Homo sapiens: one gene and its partners. The protein of the gene in region 1 purifies or fractionates together with the protein of each later gene. This does not show direct contact. Each region holds a gene or a part of one and is shown in the gene's direction. Other genes may lie near its edges.

What was found.
Region 2: the proteins of BRINP3 (region 1) and ZNG1A purify together in Homo sapiens (affinity purification with mass spectrometry; 2 studies listed by BioGRID and IntAct, with this or other methods). This does not show direct contact.
Region 3: the proteins of BRINP3 (region 1) and TXNDC15 purify together in Homo sapiens (affinity purification with mass spectrometry; 2 studies listed by BioGRID and IntAct, with this or other methods). This does not show direct contact.

What each region holds. Positions count from the first base shown.
Region 1 is NC_000001.11:190,453,856-190,460,884, reverse strand, and holds part of BRINP3 (BMP/retinoic acid-inducible neural-specific protein 3 isoform 1 precursor), read left to right. Parts: intron 1-5,944; 5' UTR 5,945-5,994; coding exon 5,995-6,230; intron 6,231-7,029. UniProt on the Homo sapiens protein: Inhibits neuronal cell proliferation by negative regulation of the cell cycle transition. Promotes pituitary gonadotrope cell proliferation, migration and invasion, when overexpressed. May play a role in cell pituitary tumor development.
Region 2 is NC_000009.12:162,053-169,081, reverse strand, and holds part of ZNG1A (zinc-regulated GTPase metalloprotein activator 1A), read left to right. Parts: intron 1-4,633; exon of another isoform or gene 4,634-4,679; intron 4,680-5,044; coding exon 5,045-5,104; intron 5,105-6,612; coding exon 6,613-6,650; intron 6,651-7,029. UniProt on the Homo sapiens protein: Zinc chaperone that directly transfers zinc cofactor to target metalloproteins, thereby activating them.
Region 3 is NC_000005.10:134,877,346-134,884,374, forward strand, and holds part of TXNDC15 (thioredoxin domain-containing protein 15 isoform 1 precursor), read left to right. Parts: intron 1-7,029. UniProt on the Homo sapiens protein: Acts as a positive regulator of ciliary hedgehog signaling. Involved in ciliogenesis.

The sequences.
Region 1 (7,029 bases):
TATATTTAGGGGGAAGAATGTACAGAACTTGAGGACAGATTGTATATGTGAGTGAGAAGGTAGGTCAAAGTCATGTTTAGGCTTAAAAATTTGAGTAGATGGAAGTATCATTTAGTGAGATAAGAAAACCAGAAAAAAGTTTGGAGAACGTTTAGTTTTCCTTGACAGAGGTATCATGTTCTAACAGAAATGGCCACAGGCAGTATGCCCTGCCTTCCACATGGCCTTCCTAAACCGGTAAGTTCCTGAGGCTAGAAGCACTATCTTTATTAAGACTTAAGGCCCACCTCTGTCTCAAAACTTATCATGATATTTTGCACATTGCAATTGATCAATAAGATTTATTTTTTTATTCTGGTTTTCTACATTATTACTTCTACCAAATTGGAATTGAAACAATTAATAAACTATAGTGGAAAAAGTATTGAAAATTTATGTTAAAATATTTTTACCTCATCTACCATTTATTTACTTACACAATTATGTATTTAGTATTCATTTATTTCATAGCTAGTATTTATTTAAATGAATAATCAAAAAATAATTATTATAGTTATATATGATTATATAATAATGCTGTAGATTTTAAACAGATTCTGGGGTACTACATATAAATATTTTATTTTATAATAAATAATTCTAACATTTATAATTTAATAGATTTAATAGAATAATATGTATCGTATTATTTGAAAGAATGTGACTTTTTAAATAGTTATTTTGAATATTGGATATTTTATTTTGAAGATTCATAGTTTTACATTTATAAGCTTCAGTATTAGTAAGCATTAATGTTAAGAAACTATTTTATAGAGCAAAGTAGTATTTGCTCAAGAGAAGAAATTTAGAGAATGGTTGCAGACATTGGGCAAATCAGCCAATTTTCTTTATACCTTTGTCCAATACTTAAAAATTTATGAGAGGGAGAGAGACAGGGAAAGAGAAAAAGAGACAGAGAGTGATAATATGGTAGAAAAAAAAGAAAACAAAACTGGTGACTCTAACTGACAGATATGTAAGAGTTTACCGTATCAGTCTTTCAGTTTTCCATGGGTTCTACATTATTCAAAATGAAAGTAAATATGTTTGATACAATGGTTTTCTGAAATGACTTTGCATATTCAAGTTCTTCAGCAGGTTTTAGTTCCTGAGAGAATATTTTGGATATGTAAGCAGCAAAAATCAGTCCAAATGCAAATACAAAAAAAGAAATGATACAGTTTGCAATGTTAATTGTTTAACAAATAGTAATAATTATCACTGGACATCTAATTCAGTTGTGGATAATAAGATACTGAGGTTTAAAAGATGCACCACTATGACATGACCCACCACTTTAAAGGATATTAAGTTTAATTCAGTGATTCCGAATATTTTGTTTATATCTTTGTAGTTTCAGTTCTACTGGAAATTCACTTTTACTGTTATAGTAAATATTTCTTTCATAAATTTCAATATTTATGAATTTCAAATATATATGATATATCAGTATTTTAGATAAAAGTAAGGTACCACCACCTTGGAATAAGACTACTGACAGCTAGTAAGAAAGAATAATCATATTTAGACTATATATTATACACATATTATTTATGCATTTATTATGTATTATATGCATTAGTATACATTAGTATATATGTAACATATTTTTGATGTATTTTATTTCTGCACAGATTGTCAAGGCCATTGAGGATTTGCAAATAAACTTGTATCATGATGTGGTCTTCACAGTTATTTTTTTTTTTTTTTGTGAGAAAGAATTTAAGAGTAGGACCTATACTAAATATCTGCTTTTCAAATAGATATTTCAATATTTATGACTTATTTTTTATGAAAAAAACCATAAATACTTAATTAAACACCATGTTTTAAACATAAAGTCATGTTTTTAATTTTGTATTGTTTTTAATGTTTTGTTTTTTTGTGTTCTTCATTCTCTTTTATTTCTCTCTTTTATATAAAATCACTCTCCCATGGTCCAGAAAATATGGTGCATTGATGTTCTCATCTCTTTAGTTGGCCAGTTAGCCTCTTGGTTATGAATATTAAATTCTGGACTATTTTGCATTTCCCCACACTATAGAAAAAGTGATAAATTCATTATTAGTTTAATAATTTCTATCCTCTTTCATTGGAACTTGTGATTTCTCTTTCTTGGCAGTATATCTAAGTTTAGCTGTTCACCTCACTTGTCACCTCAAAATATCCTAACACTACATCGTAACAAACAAACTCTATTTACTAAACCATCTCTGACACATGGATTAATATGGTTATAACCCAAACCAAATAAAGCAACCAATTAAGGTAATTCAGTAATAATTTATAAATTAGTACTCATGAAAATATGAATTAAATGTACAATGATCTACTTTTGTGACAAACCAGGTAATGAAGCTCTTCTGATGGTGAATATTGAGTTTAATTACCACTTGTCCTAAAGATGGCTAGAAGCTTACATGCTTGCCTTAGGCATTCTATTATGACTTTTCTCCCTGTCATGTAACTTGTGAAAAAAGTTCTTAAACACTATTTCAGTATAACTTTATTGGGATATCTCAATTTGTTCATTACAAAATATCTTTATAAAGTTCTTACAAATACAATGATTTTAGGATATCACCAAAATTAACTTAATTTGGGGTAAGATTGACATTCCTATGTGTTAACAAACTTTCAGAAAAAAATTATTTCTGTACAGAAGTGGGGAACATGTTCCCAAAGTCAGAAGTAGAAAAAACAGAAATAATTAAACCCCCGAATTATGTGATAATTACCTCATAATTACCTGGTAATATTGTTAGGTAGTTCTCTGCACAAAATTAAAGAAAACCTTTCTATCTTCCCATATGTTAAAATGCATAACAATGTGAAATGATGGATATGTTAAATTGTTCCACTACTGTAACCATATTACATCATGCTATACGCCTTAAATATACACAATATAGTTTTTTTTTTTTTTAATGAGGGGATATGAAGACTATGAAACAAGCTCAACACATTTGATAAAGAAAGTGATAAGAAAGTGGTTCTGGGTAATTCACCTATTGAAAAATTACAGAATTGTAGAACAGGACCTCAAATGCCATCTAGGTCAACTGTATCCTACTTTTAAAACACTTTGTGTATTACAAAAATCACATGTGTGAGTACAAAACATTTGTTTAATTTTAAGGTGTATAATGGCATGGCTTCATACCAGTATAAAATATAACTTAAAACTTTACCACATGTCCTTACCATATGGTAGGCACTATTCTAGGGATTTTACAAATATTAACTCACTCTATTTTTATAATAGACTGATGAGGTGACCTCTATAATAGTTTAGGAATCTGACGCACAAAAGAAGTTAAGTAACTTGCCTAAAGTCAAACATCTATAGCGTTAGTAGAAGGGCTGGGTGTTTTTGTTTTGTTTTTGTTTTTGTGTTTTTTTGAGACAGAGCCTCCCTCTGTTACCCAGGCTGGAGTGCAGTGGAGTCATCTAAGCTCACCGCAACCCCTGTCTCCCAGGTTCGAGAAATTCTCGTGCTTCAGCATCTAGAATAGCCAGGATTACAGATGTGTGCCACCCTGCCTGGCTAATTTTTGTATATTTTTAGTAGAGAAAGGGTTTCACCATGTTGTCCAGGCTGGTCTTGAACTCCCAACCTCAGGTGATCCGCCCTCCTCGGCCTCCCAAAGTGCTGGGATTATAGGCGTGAGCTACCGTGCCTGGCCAGGGCTAGAATTTTAACATCAGCGGTTTGGCTCTAGAGTCCATTTTTTTAACCACTATGAATATTGTCTCTTGACGTTATATATCCTAATTTGCTATATTGGTTGTTGGGTTTGGAGAAAATCTGATTTCATTTTCAAAGAACTGTTTTCCAAGTTATTTATTAGGATGAAATAAGTACTGTTTGAATTTTTTCAATAATATTCTTGTTCACATCTACATTTGTTAATAAGAGAACTTCATTTAGATGGTGTGACTGAAGTTTTATTCAATTAAGAAACACATCCTTTCAGATGATATATGTAATATGGACTTGAGTAGTGGTTTGAATAATTTATTCTGTCTTTATGAAATGAAAAATTACTCATTTAAATTAAGAAATTATATATTCTAAAAATAATGATTAAATTTTGCCCGTTTAAATGTATATGATAAGCAAAATAAAAATAGTGTGTTTAACAAAGACGAGTAATATTTTTTAGTCACAGGATTATTATACTATACCACTACACATAAGAATAATTGTGTTTATAAATGAAAGTAAGCTATATTTTAAAATAAATTGTATAGTTCTCATAAGAAAAAATATATAAAATATTTTTTCAGCAAATTTGAAAGTTAGGAGTTGAATCATTTGACAATGGTACATTTATATAGATAATAGAAAAAAGCCTAGAATCTCCAAGCTCCTATTCCAAAATTCTTCTATTATAATATTCCTTCTTATAGAAAATCATTTTTAAAATGTCTTCACTTGTAAGGCTTCCCATGTTGTTTACAAAAGACGGTACGCTTTAATCCCCTCAGTGAGCAACTCATATGATTGAGGCAACTCATACAGTATGTGAGGAATGTCCTTTTATGGATATCGTGATATTAAGAGTTCACTCATTGTATCACTGCTTTGAGCTACTTCAGAGCCCCAAAATTATTTCTCTATATCTCTCAGATAGAAATAGTTTAGGATTAAATACAAATAATGGGGTTATAGCTAGGAAAGTACATTAAAACCACCAGTGTTCTTATTCAAATACCAGAGAAATATGGTAGCTACTATTACTGATATATCTTAATACTGTAAATCTTAATCTTTTTTTCTAAAGATGTTTTGCTGAGTAAGAACTCATGCAAGTAAACCTTTCTCATTAGTCAGAATCTTTGCACTCTGTAGTGCTATGTGCTATGAATAATACAGTTTGAAAAGCTGATGAGGATAGAAAGAAAAATTGAATTCAAATATTTTTAGAATTTTCTGGTGTAGCATATAGACATTGCATCAGCAGCTTTGCATAAAGTGTCTTACACTGTACCATACTGGGATTATACGTCTTATTACTTTTTTTTGAATGATTATACTACAATGTATGCAGTTTCAAAGTCTATGAATAGTCTGCATTAGCTTAATTTATGTGCATATAATTTTGGAGGTATGACTTTCTTATGAATAAGACAGATGCACATTTAAATCTTTAAAGACCCTAGAAATAATGTAATTATGATTTTGTTTAAATAATCAGATATGCAGTTTTTTCCTAACAGAATAATGAAAAAAAATCTGGGAAAAGACATTACTCCTCACATCCACTCTCACACACACACATCTGTTCATGTATCAGTCTGTCTTTCTATCATCTCTCTGTCTCACTCTGTGTCTGTCTCTATATCTATATATATCTATAATAGGTATACACACATATACACACATATACATACATATATTTATGTATTCTTAAATCCACAGTTTTACTCCGTGTTTATGTAGATTATGGAAATAACTACATGAATATCTTTGCTTCATTTAAAGCATTTATTTAAGATAAATATACAATAAAATTAAATCTAGTATTAAAATTTGTAACACAATTTATGAAATATATGAAATACTTGAACTTATTAATTATTTATTTGCATCAGTCCAACTTTATAAAACATTCAACTTCTGATTTTTGCTCAATAGGCTTTAATGATCCACTGAATAAAATTGTTATGACAAAGTCTGTTATGACTCAATGTCTTATTTTCCATTAATATAAAAAAGGAACAAAGTATAAAAGATATACAGCTCTAAAAAAATAATTTTGGTTTGTATTTTATTATCTGCTGATAATACTAATTTAAAACAATGATATTAGATTAAAATTTAAAATTAGCCACCTCAACACCTTAACTGAGAGAAAGGAATCTTCTAGGAGTTAACTAATTGCCTGTGTATTTTGTCTAGGTGTTGAGGGAAAGCTGAGAGAATGAAGGCTCTAAATCCCCAGTGGAAGCATGATATGGCGAAGCAGAGCTGGTGCTGAATTGTTCTCTCTGATGGCTCTATGGGAGTGGATAGCACTGAGTCTTCATTGCTGGGTTTTAGCGGTTGCTGCTGTTTCGGATCAGCATGCCACAAGCCCCTTCGACTGGCTCCTCTCTGATAAGGGACCCTTCCATCGCTCACAGGAATACACAGATTTTGTGGACAGAAGCCGGCAGGGATTTAGCACAAGATACAAGATATACAGGTATGAAGCAAAGGGAAAGCAATTACAGAAATATCATCCTTGAAGGTTGTGTATACATAAGTTTCTCTAAGGGAAAGTTTCAGACGGGAAAAAGGTATTATCAGAAGGGTTGTTATTTACCATGCACCATAGTAATGTTTTCTTGCTATTCAAAGTATTTCTTATAGATGTAATATATTATGATAAAAACAGATAATGGTGACCACTTGTCTATCACTCCCAAATTTAAGCATGCTACACTGCCTTAAAGTAAATGGCAATGTATTTGGAAGCCGAGTTTCTTATTTTAAATAGCCAAAATTTTAAAGTGAAATTTAAAAAATTGCTTTTCCTTTCTACCTTATACAATGCTATGTTACCTTTTTCAGCCTAAATGGAAATGGTATCTTCTACTAGTCACTGAGAAGTTGAGTCACCTCATCCTTTTTTACCTGAAAGGTAATTGTACGTTCAGAAGCTAAAGGAAACAGCAATGGAATAAAAACAAGTAGCAGATAAATAGGACATGATAGCAAAGATCAAAGAAATGGATGGGATAAAGATATATGATCTTTAACATCTATCAATGTTCTATGTTTAAAATCTAAATAAGTTACACAAAAAGAGTAATATATTAAATTCAACAAAGGTTGCCTGTTCACCTGATGTCCCGTGAATACATTAAGTAGAAGAGTGTACAAGTGGTTGCCTGATGGATTAGATTATATTGATCTATGCCATGAAGAACATTTTATGTGAAGCTATCACTTCAATTTGTTTATTGGTGATAGACTTTTACAATTCCTAGTTAATGGTTTAA
Region 2 (7,029 bases), on another chromosome or scaffold:
GAGGAATCACTGTCTATGGTAGCTATAGCCTTATGAAATATATTTCTTAAATAAGACTTAAAAGTCAAAGTTACTCCTTGATCAGTGGGCTGCAGAATGGATGTTGTGTTAGCAGGCATGAAAACAACATTAATCTTGTACATCTCCATCACAGCTCTTGGGTGATCAGGTGCGTTGTCAATGAGCAATAATATTTTGAAGGAATCTTTTCTTTTCTAAGCAGTAGATCTCAATGGTGGGCTTAAACTAAACCGTGCTGTAAACAGATGTGCTGTCATCTAGGCTTTATTATTTATAGAAAACAGGCAGAGGAGATTTAGCATAATTCTTAATGGCCCTAGAATTTTTAGGATAGTAAATGATTATTGGCTTCAACTTGAAGTCACCAGCTGCTTTAGCCTCTAACAAGAGAGTCAGCCTGTCCTTTGAATCTTTGAAGCCAGGCATTGACTTCTCTATAGCTATGAAAGTCCTAAATGGCATCTTCTTCCAAAAGGAGGCCATTTCATCTCCATTAAAAATCTGTTGCTGGCCGGGCTCGGTGGCTCATGCCTGTAATCTCAGCACTTTGGGAGGCCGAGGTGGGCAGTTCACGAGTTCAGGAGTTCAAGACCAGCCTGGCCAACATAGTGAAACCCCATCTCAGCTAAAAATACCAAAAATTAGCCTGGCTTGGTGGTGGGAGCCTGTAATCCCAGTTACTTGGGAGGCTGAGGTAGGAGAATGGCTTGAACCCGGGAGACGGAGGTGGCAGTGAGCTGAGATTGCACATTGCACTCCAGCCTGGGTGACAGAGCGAGACTCCATCTCAAAATAAATAAATAAATAAATAAAAAATAAGTCTGTTGCTTAGTGTAGCTACTTTCATGAATGATGTTAGCTACATCTTCTAGGTAGTTTACTACAGCTTCTATATCAGCATTTGCTGCTTTCCCTTGCACTTTTATGTTATGGAGATGGCTTCTTTCTTTAAATCTTGTGAACCAACCTCTGCTACCTTCCAACTTTTCTTCTCTAGCTTCCTCACCTCTCTCAGCCTTCATAGAACTGAAGAGAGTTAGGGTTGCTCTGAATTAGGCTTTGGCTTAAGGGAACATTGTGGCTTGTTTGATCATCTATCCAGACCACTTCATATCAGCAATAAGGCTGTTTTATTATCATTTGTGTGTTTACTGGAGTAGCACTTTTAATTTCCTTCAAGAACTTTTCCTTTGCATTCACAACTTAGCTAACTGGCTCAAGAGACCTAGCTTTTGGCGTATCTTGGCTTTCAACATAACTTCCTCACTAAGCATAATCATTTCTAGCTCTTGATTTAAAGTGAGAAACAGGTGACTGTTCCTTTCACTTGAACACTTACAGGCCATTGTAGGATATTAATTGGCCTAGTTTCATGTTGATCATATTCTTTATGTTGTCATGGTTCTGTCATAATTCTTTTAGTTCTATGTTTTAATAGTTTTGGTGCTTATTACCAGTACTGTTGCTTCTCCATTCCCGAGTTAGTCCATCTCCTGATTGAATTTCATTGTCAGGCAGTCTTTTCAAGTTACAGGTACTGCATGCATTCTTTGGGTTCTTATACACTTCATTGATTCAAAATATTTGTCTTTTGTTTTTATATTACTTGAAGGATTACTTGGCTAGGTATAAAATTTATCAGTCACACTTTATTCCCCCTCAACTTTGTAAATGTTGTTCCATAATCTCCTAGTGTTTGATTGGCTGGATTTCTTTGTCCAATGTTTTCTCTTTTTATTAGGAAGAATTTGTGAGTATTATAGTCTCTGAGTTTCAATGCTTGCTGTTTTCTTTAATGCTTGAGAATGTCTGTCTATTGCTTTCGTTCCTGAAAAATAACTTGTTTGGGAACACTTTCATTAGAACTTTGTGGTCCCTGTTTTATTATTTTGGGACATCTAGTGTTACTGTAGAAAAGTCTGATTTTTCTCCCTACCTCCTTGAAGGCAATTTTTTTTTTTAATCTAAAATGCCTGAGAGTTTTCTTCTTTATTTTTGAAATTCAGTAATATAAACAAGGTATATCTAAGTGTCACTTATAATCATTTTTCCCTAAATTATAGTATGCCCTTAGTTCTTCTAAGAACATTTTCCTTGTTTATTACCATGAATACTTTTTTTTGGTCAAATTATTAGATCCTCTACTTCATGACACCAGTTTTTTTAATACTGAATTTTCTTTTGTTGTTCGTATGTATTCTAATTGCTTTGATTTGTCTTTTACCTTTGCATTTACTGTGATCATCTGAAGCCTTTCTTTTTGTCAATAATTCTGTTTTCTCCAGTGTCTGTCCTGTTTTTGATATTTTAAATGAATTAATTGGTTAAGTCATTGTGTTATATAGGCTCTAAGTTTCTTTAGCGCTACAAACGCATTTTCATCTTATTCTGCTTCTTCTTGCTTTTGAGCTTGTTTATTATAAGGTTGTATTGTTTTCAAGTTCTTCATTATGATGAAGTTGTTGAGAATTTTCTTTAGTTTTTATTGGGTTATGTATCCTTCCAGAATGGGTTCTTTGCCACTTGTGTGCCCTATTCATTTCTTCATTTTGTGTTCTTTCTTGCTTTTTATTCCCTGTATGTGCGTGTTTCTTTTTGTCAGGCTGTAATACATATGCATACATGTTTCTTCTTGATGTGGGAGAACTTCTATGTGGTGCTGATGGGAAATATTTTTAATACTCCACTCTCCTTACCCAAGTTTGTTTTTCTCCTGAGCCCTAGTTTGAAAGCTGTATATTGTTGGAGTGGAGGGAAAGAGAAGGGAAAAGTGGTGATTCAGAGAGCCAAATGGGGCAATGTGGCTTTTAGGCTCTGCTCTCTTGAAGTACCAAGTATTTCACTCTTGGGTCTGCCCAACTGCTTATGAATAAAATTCCTTTGCCTTGTATGGGGACATCATTCGACCTCAGAGCTCTCATTTCTCTTTGTTCTGAGCCCTAGAATGTGACCTGACCTTCTCCTTCCCAAAGCAAAGAGATGGTTAAAACTCACTCTTGAAATTTTTTTGTTGACTTTTCCTTGTGTTGCTTATTCATTCCTCGGCTCTACTTTTTGTCATTTTGGAGTGTATTTCTGGTAAGTGTTTAGGATTTTGTAAACTATTTCCCTACAACCTCTTATTGGAGGTAGGGGTAGAGTTGGGAATGACCATCAATCACATATAACTTTGTTTCTTATTTTGACTATCAGTCTTCAAAATTTATGGCAGGCCCTTTTATATTTGGTTGCTGCTAATAAAATGTTGGCCTTTTTGTTTTATTTTTTGTTTTTATTTTTTGTTTTATTAGATTTTGAAGAAGGGAGATTCTAAAATGTAGTTCAGGTTTTCTCAGTGTCAGCACAAATAACATTTTGGGTTGGATAATTATTTGTTGTGAGGGGGTTGCCCTGTGCAGAGTAGGATATTTAACAACATCCCTGGCTTCTACCCACTAGATGCCAGTAGCATTCCCCTAGTTAAGACAACCAAAAACATCTTCAGACATTGCCAAATATTCCCTGGGGAGAAAAGCACCCTGATTTGAGAGCCACTGATCAATTTTGTTCATTCATCTTTACTCCCCCTAAATACCTACATCCAAATTTTAAATAGATCTTTCTCATGTAGTCTGGCAAGTATTATATCAAAGATAAATACCAGTTTTAGAATAAAGCATTAATATACTCTTACATTTCAACTTAAGAGGCAAATATTAACAGTAGGATTTGTAAACTATTTATTGGAATAAAAATCAATGAATTTTTAAAAATTACAAAATGATTTATGTATGTTAGATATTTTACTGAGTGAAAAAATTCATGCTTTTTTAAATGACTTATTGTTTGGAGTAGTGATACAGTAGATTTAATTTCCCCCCTCATTAATTAAAATCATGTTTTAGCCAAGAAAGTGAACAAAATTCTTATTGGCAATTCAGTTGTTTCCCGTTTTGGAGACTGACACGCTCCAGTTCTAAGTTAAATAATTGTCATGGTAAAGTAATTTCCTTGAAAAGAACAGACATTGATTCAGCCCCTGTTACTCACAAATCCTATTTGAGTCAAATTGGAAAACTATTAAGTTTTTGGGAAAAAAATCAATAGGTATCAGGAAACCATTAGATCTTGTGGCCCTTGCTATATCTTGCATGAGTAATCACTGTAAACAGCTGACAGGTATTTCATTGTTGACACCGAGTGATGCTTGGGGGACCACATCTTGGCAGAGTAGGTGGACAGCTTTAGACGCTGGAATGAGTTTGATTATCCTTGTTTTTCTCCTACACTCATTCTTTTAGACAGCCCTGTCACTAACTGGGCCTGTGATGCTTTCAAAAATCAAATACTTTCCTTGCTGTCAGTTTTCTTTTTCTTGCGTTGTGGCATACTAATCAGGGTATGTGGTTTGGTACTGAACCAATTTCTGTCAAAAGCAAGTTTTAATTTATTATTTAGGAAAAATTTTTCCTAAGACCCAGGTTTTATACAGTACTAAATAAATAGTGTGAGGAATAATTAGTAATGCCATAGAGTATATAATTTTACTTCTAGTTCTACACAGATTACAAGTAAATTTTTTTTGGGCAAGTGATTTTGGAATTATCTATGTTTTGTTTTCCTTTTCCTTTAGAGTGATAATTCACTATTTATGATTGAATGATTATCATATTAAAGAGGTGAGAAAATAAAAATAAGTCTGATGTGCACAAAGCCATACTGCTCAAATTGTTTGATAATATCTGTTAATTAAATTATTATGGCATCGGTAGAAGAATGATGTTTTGTTTATATGTGGTTAGAATTGGTCTTTTTTAAAGGAAATAACAAGAGAGATGGAAATGGAATGGGTATAAATAGTAAAAGGTTCTATCACTATAATTCCCTTTTGCTATAAATAGTTAAAGCTTCTATCACTATAATTTCCATAAGAAGATATATGTGTTTACCTGTTAATTTTATCAGGGCAAATTAAAACATGGATAGAATCATGTTTCTCAGTGTGAAGAAATATTTTTATTTGATGAATATTATATATTTTCAGGTGCAGTGGCTTCTATGTTTTGGGTTGATGCTGAATTAGGGAGTGATATTTATCTTGATGGTAAGTTAAAAAACAGTTTTCTTTTATCTTTCTTGTTTTTTTTTTTTTTTCTGAGACAGAGTCTCACTTTGTTGCCCAGACTGGAGTGCATGGAGTGCAGTGGCATGATCTCGGCTCACTGCAACCTTTACCTCCTGGGTTCAAGTGATTCTCTTGCCTCAGCCTCCCGAGTAGCTGGGACTACAGGCGTGCACCATCGTACCTGGCTAATTTTTGGATTTTTAGTAGAGACGGGGTTTCGCCATGTTGGCCTGACTGGTCTTGAACCCCTGACTTCAGGTGATCCGCCAGCCTCGGCCTCCCAAAGTGCTGGGATTACAGGCGTGAGCCACCACACCCTGCCTCTTTTGTTTTTTAGTAAAATCTTTATGGTTAAGCTTATTGTTGTTGTTCATTCATATTATAACTTTAATTCCTTGCATTGTTGTTCTTTTCACACTTTAGTTTAATGATGAAATCTTTGTTCATATAGATTAAAAAACCCCAGACAGTGGTGGAACTCGATGTCACTCAACTTCCAATTTAGTGCTTCCACTAAGGTTTTCTTTAAAAAAAAAAATGCTTTGTAGGTTTTCTGTATCCTCTGTTGTTTGATTTATGCCCTTAATATAATGTTAGAGCCTTTTATTTTAATCCTCCAGGCAATATGAGGATCATATTTTTGCTTTTATTTTCTCTTGAAGATAAGAATTAAACACTCCTGTCTTACTTTATTTACCTGAACACTTTTGGGCAATGATATGCCTTCATTTAAAATATATTAGAAACTTTCTTAGTTAAGCGACTATGTTTTCTCCCTTTCTCAGTCGAAATTTTCTTACTTTTTCAAAAGTAATAATCATTAAGAAATTTAAGAATTATTAAGCTGGGCCCCATCATTGAGCTCTAATATATGTGGCGGGTAACTGGTTGAATTCCTTAGGCATAATTAAACTCATTCTTTTGTTATCAGCATATATTCAGAGATTGCAAAATGAATTGGTAGTTTGGAAACTTAGGCATATGTTATGTAGAACATTTATGAGTTGGATTTGGATTTGGTGAGAGATGTTAGGAATGATACCTTAAGATGTCTCATTCTTTAGGCAATAATTTAAATCTTAAGAAAAGTCTTGATTTTGATTATGTGAAAATAAACTAGAAATAACCTGTCTTATGTACTTATCACATTTGACTATGTTATGAAATTTGACTTATATTTTGGATTGTAAGCTTTTTCAGTGCCAAGGAAATCTTATTTTCTTATTTATTTAATTTAAAATTTTTATTTGTTTTATATCGTTTCTAGTGCCTTAAAATAGTGCTAGCCACTCAGGAAATGCATTGACTTATTACTGGAATTTAATTAAATGGCAGCACTGGCAAGAGAAAAAAACAGTACATTGTTTTATTGAGTAGTATTTGTGAACTGAAATAGGTTAGTTTTAATTTTCATTTTGAAGTATGGTTGTACAAATATTAATAAACATTCTTTTTAAAAAGTGATTAAAATGTTTTTTCCTTTGTAGGTATCATAACTATTGTGGATTCAAAATATGGATTAAAAGTAAGTTGAAAGATTGCTATGAGTGGGTCATTATTGAGAGCTGGGAATATGGGGATTGATTGTTTAATTTTCTTTATGTTTGTATCTGAAATTTTCTTTAACAAAAACCTTTCTCAAAAAGATATCCTGAACAATAGGTGAAATTTGTGTTTTAATTATTAGTTTGTGTTAAATATTTCTTTTCTATTACTCTGAGTTTGATTTGGTGATAAAATTTGGAATTATAATTTGTAATAAGCATATGGGGTTAGGGTAGAGTTTGGTATGTATAACTCTTCACAAGGATTCAACCCCAATATTGGTAAGTTTTTCTGTTCCATAGAAGAAGCTGAGCTTGATAAAGCATCTGAGATCTTATTTTTCTTGTTAAATTACTATT
Region 3 (7,029 bases), on another chromosome or scaffold:
GCAGATGCATTCACAGGGTAGGGGAAGCCACTGAAAGAGTTTTAGCAGGGGAGTGACATGATCAGATATGCCTTTTATCTTTCAGTTTCACTTGTATTGCTGTGAAGGTCAGGGTCTGGAGGGGGGATAGCAGGCTGACCAGGGAGACCAGTTTAGGTGGCTACAGTAGTTGCCCAGACAAGAATTGGCTGTGGCCTTTGCTGAGAAGTGTTAGTTGGGATGGGGAAAGTAGATGGATTGTGAATGTGTTTAGCAGGTGAAATTTTTTTTTTTCTTTTTGAGAAGGAGTCTTGCTCTTGTCACCCAGGCTGGAGTGCAGTGGCACCATCTTGGCTCACTGCAACCTCCACCTCCTGGGTTCAAATGATTCTCCTGCCTCAGCCTCCCGAGTAGCTGGGATTACAGGCATGCGCCACCATGCCTGGCTAATTTTTTTTTTTTTTTTTGAGATGGAGTTTTGCTCTTGTTGCTCAGGCTGGAGCAATGGTGCGATCTTGGCTCATTGCAACCTCTGCCTCCCGGGTTCAAGCGATTCTCTTGTCTCAGCTTCCTGAGTAGCTGGGATTACAGGCACCCGTCACTACACCCCGGCTAATTTTTGGTATTTTTAGTAGAGATGGGGTTTCGCCATGTTGGCCAGGCTGGTCTCGAACTCCTGACCTCAGGTGATCTGCCCGCCTTGACCTCCCAAAGTGCTGGGATTACAGGCGTGAGCCACTGCGCCTGGCCTAATTTTTGTATTTTTTAGTAGAGATGGGGTTTCACCATGTTGGCCAGGCTGGTCTTGAATTCCTGACCTCAAGTAATCTGCCTGCCTTGGCCTCCCAAAGTGTTAGGATTACAGGTATGAACCAGCAAGCCCAGTGTGCAGGTTAATTAATAGAACTTAGTTATTGTGCCTTTCCATCTCTTTGAATTGTAAACACCACTCATCATAATCATCATCATCACCACAGCCATTTATGGAGTGTTTAACCTGTGGCAGGGACCATACACATCTTTTCTCATTTAATCTTCACAGTAGCCTCATAATTTTCTACATTTTGGTGGTATTGTCTCCATTTGCTAAATGAGCACACAGTATTGCCTATGGAAAGTATGGATTGCTGTCCCTCCAACCCTTGACTGTTTTTGGTCCCTCCTCATTTGCCTTTCCTGCCAGAAGCCATTGTGAAAACACCTGCAGCTGGTAAAGAGCCTTCTGAGAAAAGCTGGAAGGGTGTGAAGGTGCTGACCTAGGCTAGGGCTCCCTGGCAGAATTGGCATGGTGCCCTCACACTTGTCCTTCAGACAACTTCTTTGCTGCCAGTGATGCAATAATTATCACTTTATGTATAGCTCAAACTGCAGTCTCTTAAAAGGCACATTACCAGTCGGGTGCAGTGGCTCACGCCTGTAATCCCAGCACACTGGGAGGCCGAGGTGGCTGGATCATTTGAGGCCAGAAGTTTGAGACCAGCCTGGCCAACATGGTGAAACCCCATCTCTACTAAAAATAAAAAAAGTAGCCAGGTGTGGTGGTGCGCATCTGTAATCCCAGCTATTTGGGAGGCTAAGGCAGGAGAATTGCTTGAACCCAGGAGATGGAGGCTGCAGTGAGCTGAGATCGTGCCACTGCACTCCAGCCCGGACAACAGAGCAAGACTCTGTCTCAAAGAAAATAAAAAATAAAAGCACATTACCAAGGGAGGGTTCAATGACTGTCACATAGTATGACATTTTTATTTTCGTGTGGAATAATTCAGTGTTTCTTTTCTTCCTAATTCCTAAATGAAAACGTTGGTACCTGAAGGCATAAGATTTTTTTGTTCCTAATCTGTACTGTGTACTTAAATATTTTTACAATGTGCAGGGGGATGGAGGGGACAACACTCTTGAACTTAAAATACCAGCTCCATGCACCACTTACATTCCCTTTTGATTTTGTGCAGGGGCTATCTGAGGGTCATCAGAGAGAACCAGATTAAAATTTGTGCCCTGATTTTTTTATCCTGAGGTTCTTCGTTTTGGCATTCTTCATTTACTTGTGGAATCTAGAATGTTGATTAGGTAGCAAGAGCAAATCTCTGAAGAACTGTGGTGTTTGGGAGTTGGGTTGGACCCCAAACCTGGCATCCTTTCTTTTCCAGACTCTTAGCCTCTCTGGCTTCATTTCCTGCTTTGTCTTGTGGCTGACACAGAAAACATGTGTGTTTGTTTTTTCTTCTGATCATACAGGCAATACACACTCATTAACCAAAGGCTATAGAAATAAAAGGCTATAGAAATACCGCCAATGTGATCCCGCCCCTCCACCAATTTGGCAAAGCTCCCTTCCCAGGCACCCAGCCGCTTCTCTGGATTGTAGTCACAGAAGTGCTTGACCTTCTGCTAAAGACTCACTTTGCTGCCCAAGCCTTAAACTCTGTCCTATGTAACCTCCATTGCCACCTCTCCCTTCTTACCTGCCTTTTTTTTTTTTTTTTTGGATACAGAGCCTTGCTCTGTCACCCAGGCTGGAGTGCAGTGGCGTGATTCTCGGCTCACTGCAGCCTCTGCCTCCCAGGTTCAAGTGATTCTCCTGCCTCAGCCTCCCAAGTAGCTGGGATTACCGGTGCATGCCGCCACATCTGGCTAATTTTTGTATTTTTAGTACAGACGGGATTTCAACATGTTGGCCAAGCTGGTCTCGAACTCCTGACCTCAAGGGATCCGCCCTCCTTGGCCTCCCAAAGTACTGGGATTACAGGTGTGAGCCACGCGCCCAGCCCCTTCTTACCTGCTTTCTCATCAGCTTTGTGTATCCTCAGATTGCTCCTATGTTCCAAATAGCAAAATAGAAACCTCCCTTAGTCTTCCTTGCCTGTAGCGAATCTACCCTACCTTCCTCGCCCCCTTTATAGCTAGATTTTTGGAAAGAATTGTGTATATTTATCCATGTAGTTACCATTTTGGTTTCTCTATTTCTTTATGTGGATCCATATTTCCATCTGTTAACATTTTTCTTCTGCCTGAAGGAGTTCCTTGAAGATTTTTGTCATGTGGGTTCGCTGGTAATGAATTCTTTTATCTTTTGTATGTCTGAAGAAGTGAAGAAGTATTTATTTCACTTATTATTTTTTTTTTTTTTGAGATGGAGTCTCGCTCTGTAGCCCAGGCTGGAGTGCAGTGGCACTATCTCAGGTCACTGCAACCTCCACCTCCTGGGTTCAAGCGATTCTCTTGCCTCGGCCTCCCGAGCAGCTGGGATTACGGGCGCCCGCTACCATGCCAGGCTAATTTTTTTTTTTGTATTTTTAGTAGATACAGGGTTTCACCATGTTGGCTAGGCTGTTCTGGAACTCCTGACCTCAAGTCATCCACCTGCCTCGGTCTCCCTAAGTGCTGGGAGTACAGGCGTGAGCCACCATGCCCAGCCAAAATCATTTTTTTCTTTTTTTTTGAGATGGAGTCGCACTCTTGCTTGCTTTGTTTCCAGTGAGAAACCTGTTGTTATCCTTTGTTCCTCTCTACATGATGTTTTGTTTTTTTTCCTCTGGCTGCTTTAAAGATTTTTTTCTTTGTCACTGGTTTTGAGCAATTTGATTGTGATGTGCTTTGTTGTAGTTCATTGAGTTTGGGTTTTGTTGAGCTTCTTAGATCTATGGATTTATAGTTTTCACCAAGTTTGGAAAGTTTTTGGCTATAATTTCTTCAAATATTTTTCTGTTCCTCCACTCTCTTCTCTTGCCAGTACTCCAGTTACTGTACATTAGACCACTTGAAATTGTCCTACGGCCCACTGATGCTCTTAATTTCTTTCCATTCTTTTTTTTTTTCCTGTGTGTTTCATTTTGGATAGGTTCTTTTTATTTATTTATTTATTTATTTATTTATTTTTTTATTGATCATTCTTGGGTGTTTCTCGCAGAGGGGGATTTGGCAGGGTCACAGGACAATAGTGGAGGGAAGGTCAGCAGATAAACAAGTGAACAAAGGTCTCTGGTTTTCCTAGGCAGAGGACCCTGCGGCCTTCCGCAGTGTTTGTGTCCCTGGGTACTTGAGATTAGGGAGTGGTGATGACTCTTAACGAGCATGCTGCCTTCAAGCGTCTGTTTAACAAAGCACATCTTGCACCGCCCTTAATCCATTTAACCCTGAGTGGACACAGCACATGTTTCAGAGAGCACAGGGTTGGGGGTAAGGTCACAGATCAACAGGATCCCAAGGCAGAAGAATTTTTCTTAGTACAGAACAAAATGAAAAGTCTCCCATGTCTACCTCTTTCTACACAGACACGGCAACCATCCGATTTCTCAATCTTTTCCCCACCTTTCCCCCCTTTCTATTCCACAAAACTGCCATTGTCATCATGGCCCGTTCTCAATGAGCTGTTGGGTACACCTCCCAGACGGGGTGGTGGCCGGGCAGAGGGGCTCCTCACTTCCCAGTAGGGGCGGCCGGGCAGAGGCGCCCCTCACCTCCCGGACGGGGCGGCTGGCCGGGCGGGGGGCTGACGCTCCCATCTCCCTCCCGGACGGGGCGGCTGGCCAGGCAGAGGGGCTCCTCACTTCCCAGTAGGGGCGGCCGGGCAGAGGCGCCCCTGACCTCCCGGACGGGGCGGCTGGCCAGGTGGGGGGCTGACCCCCCCACCTCCCTCCCGGACGGGGTGGCTGCCGGGTGGAGACGCTCCTCACTTCCCAGACGGGGTGGCTGCCGGGCGGAGGGGCTCCTCACTTCTCAGACGGGGTGGCTGCTGGGCGGAGGGGCTCCTCACTTCTCAGACAGGGCGGTTGCCAGGCAGAGGGTCTCCTCACTTCTCAGACGGGGTGGCCGGGCAGAGACGCTCCTCACTTCTCAGACGGGGTGGCCGGGCAGAGACGCTCCTCACATCCCGGACGGGGCGACAGGGCAGAGGCGCTCCCCACATCTCAGACGATGGGTGGCCGGGCAGAGACGCTCCTCACTTCCTAGATGGGATGGCGGCCGGGAAGAGGCGCTCCTCATTTCCTAGATGGGATGGCGGCCGGGCAGAGATGCTCCTCACTTTCCAGACTGGGCAGCCAGGCAGAGGGGCTCCTCACATCCCAGACAATGGGCGGCCAGGCAGAGACGCTCCTCACTTCCCAGACAGGGTGGCGGCCGGGCAGAGGCTGCAATCTCGGCACTTTGGGAGGCCAAGGCAGGCTGCTGGGAGGTGGATGTTGTAGCGAGCCGAGATCACGCCACTGCACTCCAGCCTGGGCACCATTGAGCACTGAGTGAAGGAGACTCCTGCAATCCCGGCACCTCGGGAGGCCGAGGCTGGCGGATCACTCGCGGTTAGGAGCTGGAGACCAGCCCGGCCAACACAGCGAAACCCCGTCTCCACCCAAAAAATACGAAAACCAGTCAGGCGTGGCGGCGCGCGCCTGCAATCGCAGGCACTCGGCAGGCTGAGGCAGGAGAATCAGGCAGGGAGGTTGCAGTGAGCCGAGATGGCAGCAGTACAGTCCAGCTTCGGCTCGGCATCAGAGGGAGACCGTGGAAAGAGGAGGGAGAGGGGGAGGGGGAGAGGGAGAGGGAGAGCTGGACAGGTTCTATTGCTATCTTCAAGTTGACTATTTTCTTCCGTATTGTCTACTTTACCATTATTCTTATAGAGTGCAATTTTCATCTCAGACATTGTAGTTATTATAATTTACGTCTTTAAAAGTACGATTTGGGCTGGGCACGGTGGCTCATGCCTGTAATCCCAGAATTTGGGAGGCTGAGGCGGGCAGATTACTTGAGGCCAGGAGTTTGAGACCAGCCTGGCCAACATGGCAAAACCCCATCTCTAGCAAAAATACAAAATAATTAGGCTGGGCATGGTGGCTCACGCCTGTAATCCCAGCACTTTGGGAGGCCAAGGTGGGTGGATCACGAGGTCAGGAGTTCCAGACCAGCCTGGCCAACATGATGAAACCCCGTCTCTACTAAAAATACAAAAATTAGCTGGGCATGGTGGCACATGCCTGTAATCCCAGCTATTCAGGAGGCTGAGGCAGGAGAATTCCTTGAACCGGAACCCAGGAGGAGGTAGCAGTGAGTGAGATCGTGCCACTGCACTCCAGCCTGTGCTACAGAGCAAGACTCTGTCTCAAAAAAAACCAAAAAAACAAAGACAAAATAATTAGCTGGGTGCAGTGGCTCATGCCTGTAATCCTAGCTGCTTGGGAGGCTGAGGTGGTAGAATCGCTTGAACCCGGGAGGTGGTTGTGCCACTGTACTCCAGCCTGGGTGACAGAGCGAGACCCTGTCTCAAAAAAAAAAAAAAAAAAAAAAAAGAAAAGAAAAAGGCTAGGCCTGGTGGCTCGCTGGCTCACACCTGTAATCCCAGCACTTTGGGAGGCTGAGGCAGGCAGATCACTTGGGGCCAGGAGTTTGAGACCAGCCTGACCAATATGGCGAAACCCCATCTCTACTAAAAAAATACAAAAATTAGCTGGGTGTGGTGGTGGGTGCCTGTAATCCCAGCTACTCAGGAAGCTGAGGCAGGAGAATTGCTTGAACCTGGGAGGTGGAGGTTGCAGTGAGCCGAGATGGTGCCACTGCACTCAGCCTGGGCAATAAAGGGAGACTCCATCTCAAAAAAAAAAAAAAAGGAAAGAAAGCCAGGCGCGGTGGCTCATGCCTGCAATCCCAGCATTTTGGGATGCCGAGGCGGGAGGATCACCCGAGGTCAGGAGTTCGAGACCAGCCTGGCCAACATGGCGAAACCTCATCTCTACTAAAAAATACAAAAATTAGTCAGGTGTGGTGGCAGGCACCTATAATCCCAGCTACTTGGGAGGCTGAGGCAGGAGAATTGCTTGAACCCGGGAGGTGGAGGCTGCAGTGAGCTGAGATTGTGCCACTGCACTCCAACCTGGACGATAGAGCAAGACTCAGTTTCAAAAAAAAAAAAAAAAAGGGTACAATTTGATCTTTTTTTTTTTCCCGAGACAGAGTTTTGCTCTTGTTGCCCAGGCTGGAGTGCAATGGCACTATCTCGGCTCACCACAACCTCTGCCTCCTAAGTTCAAGCGATTCTCCTGCCTCAGCCTCCCA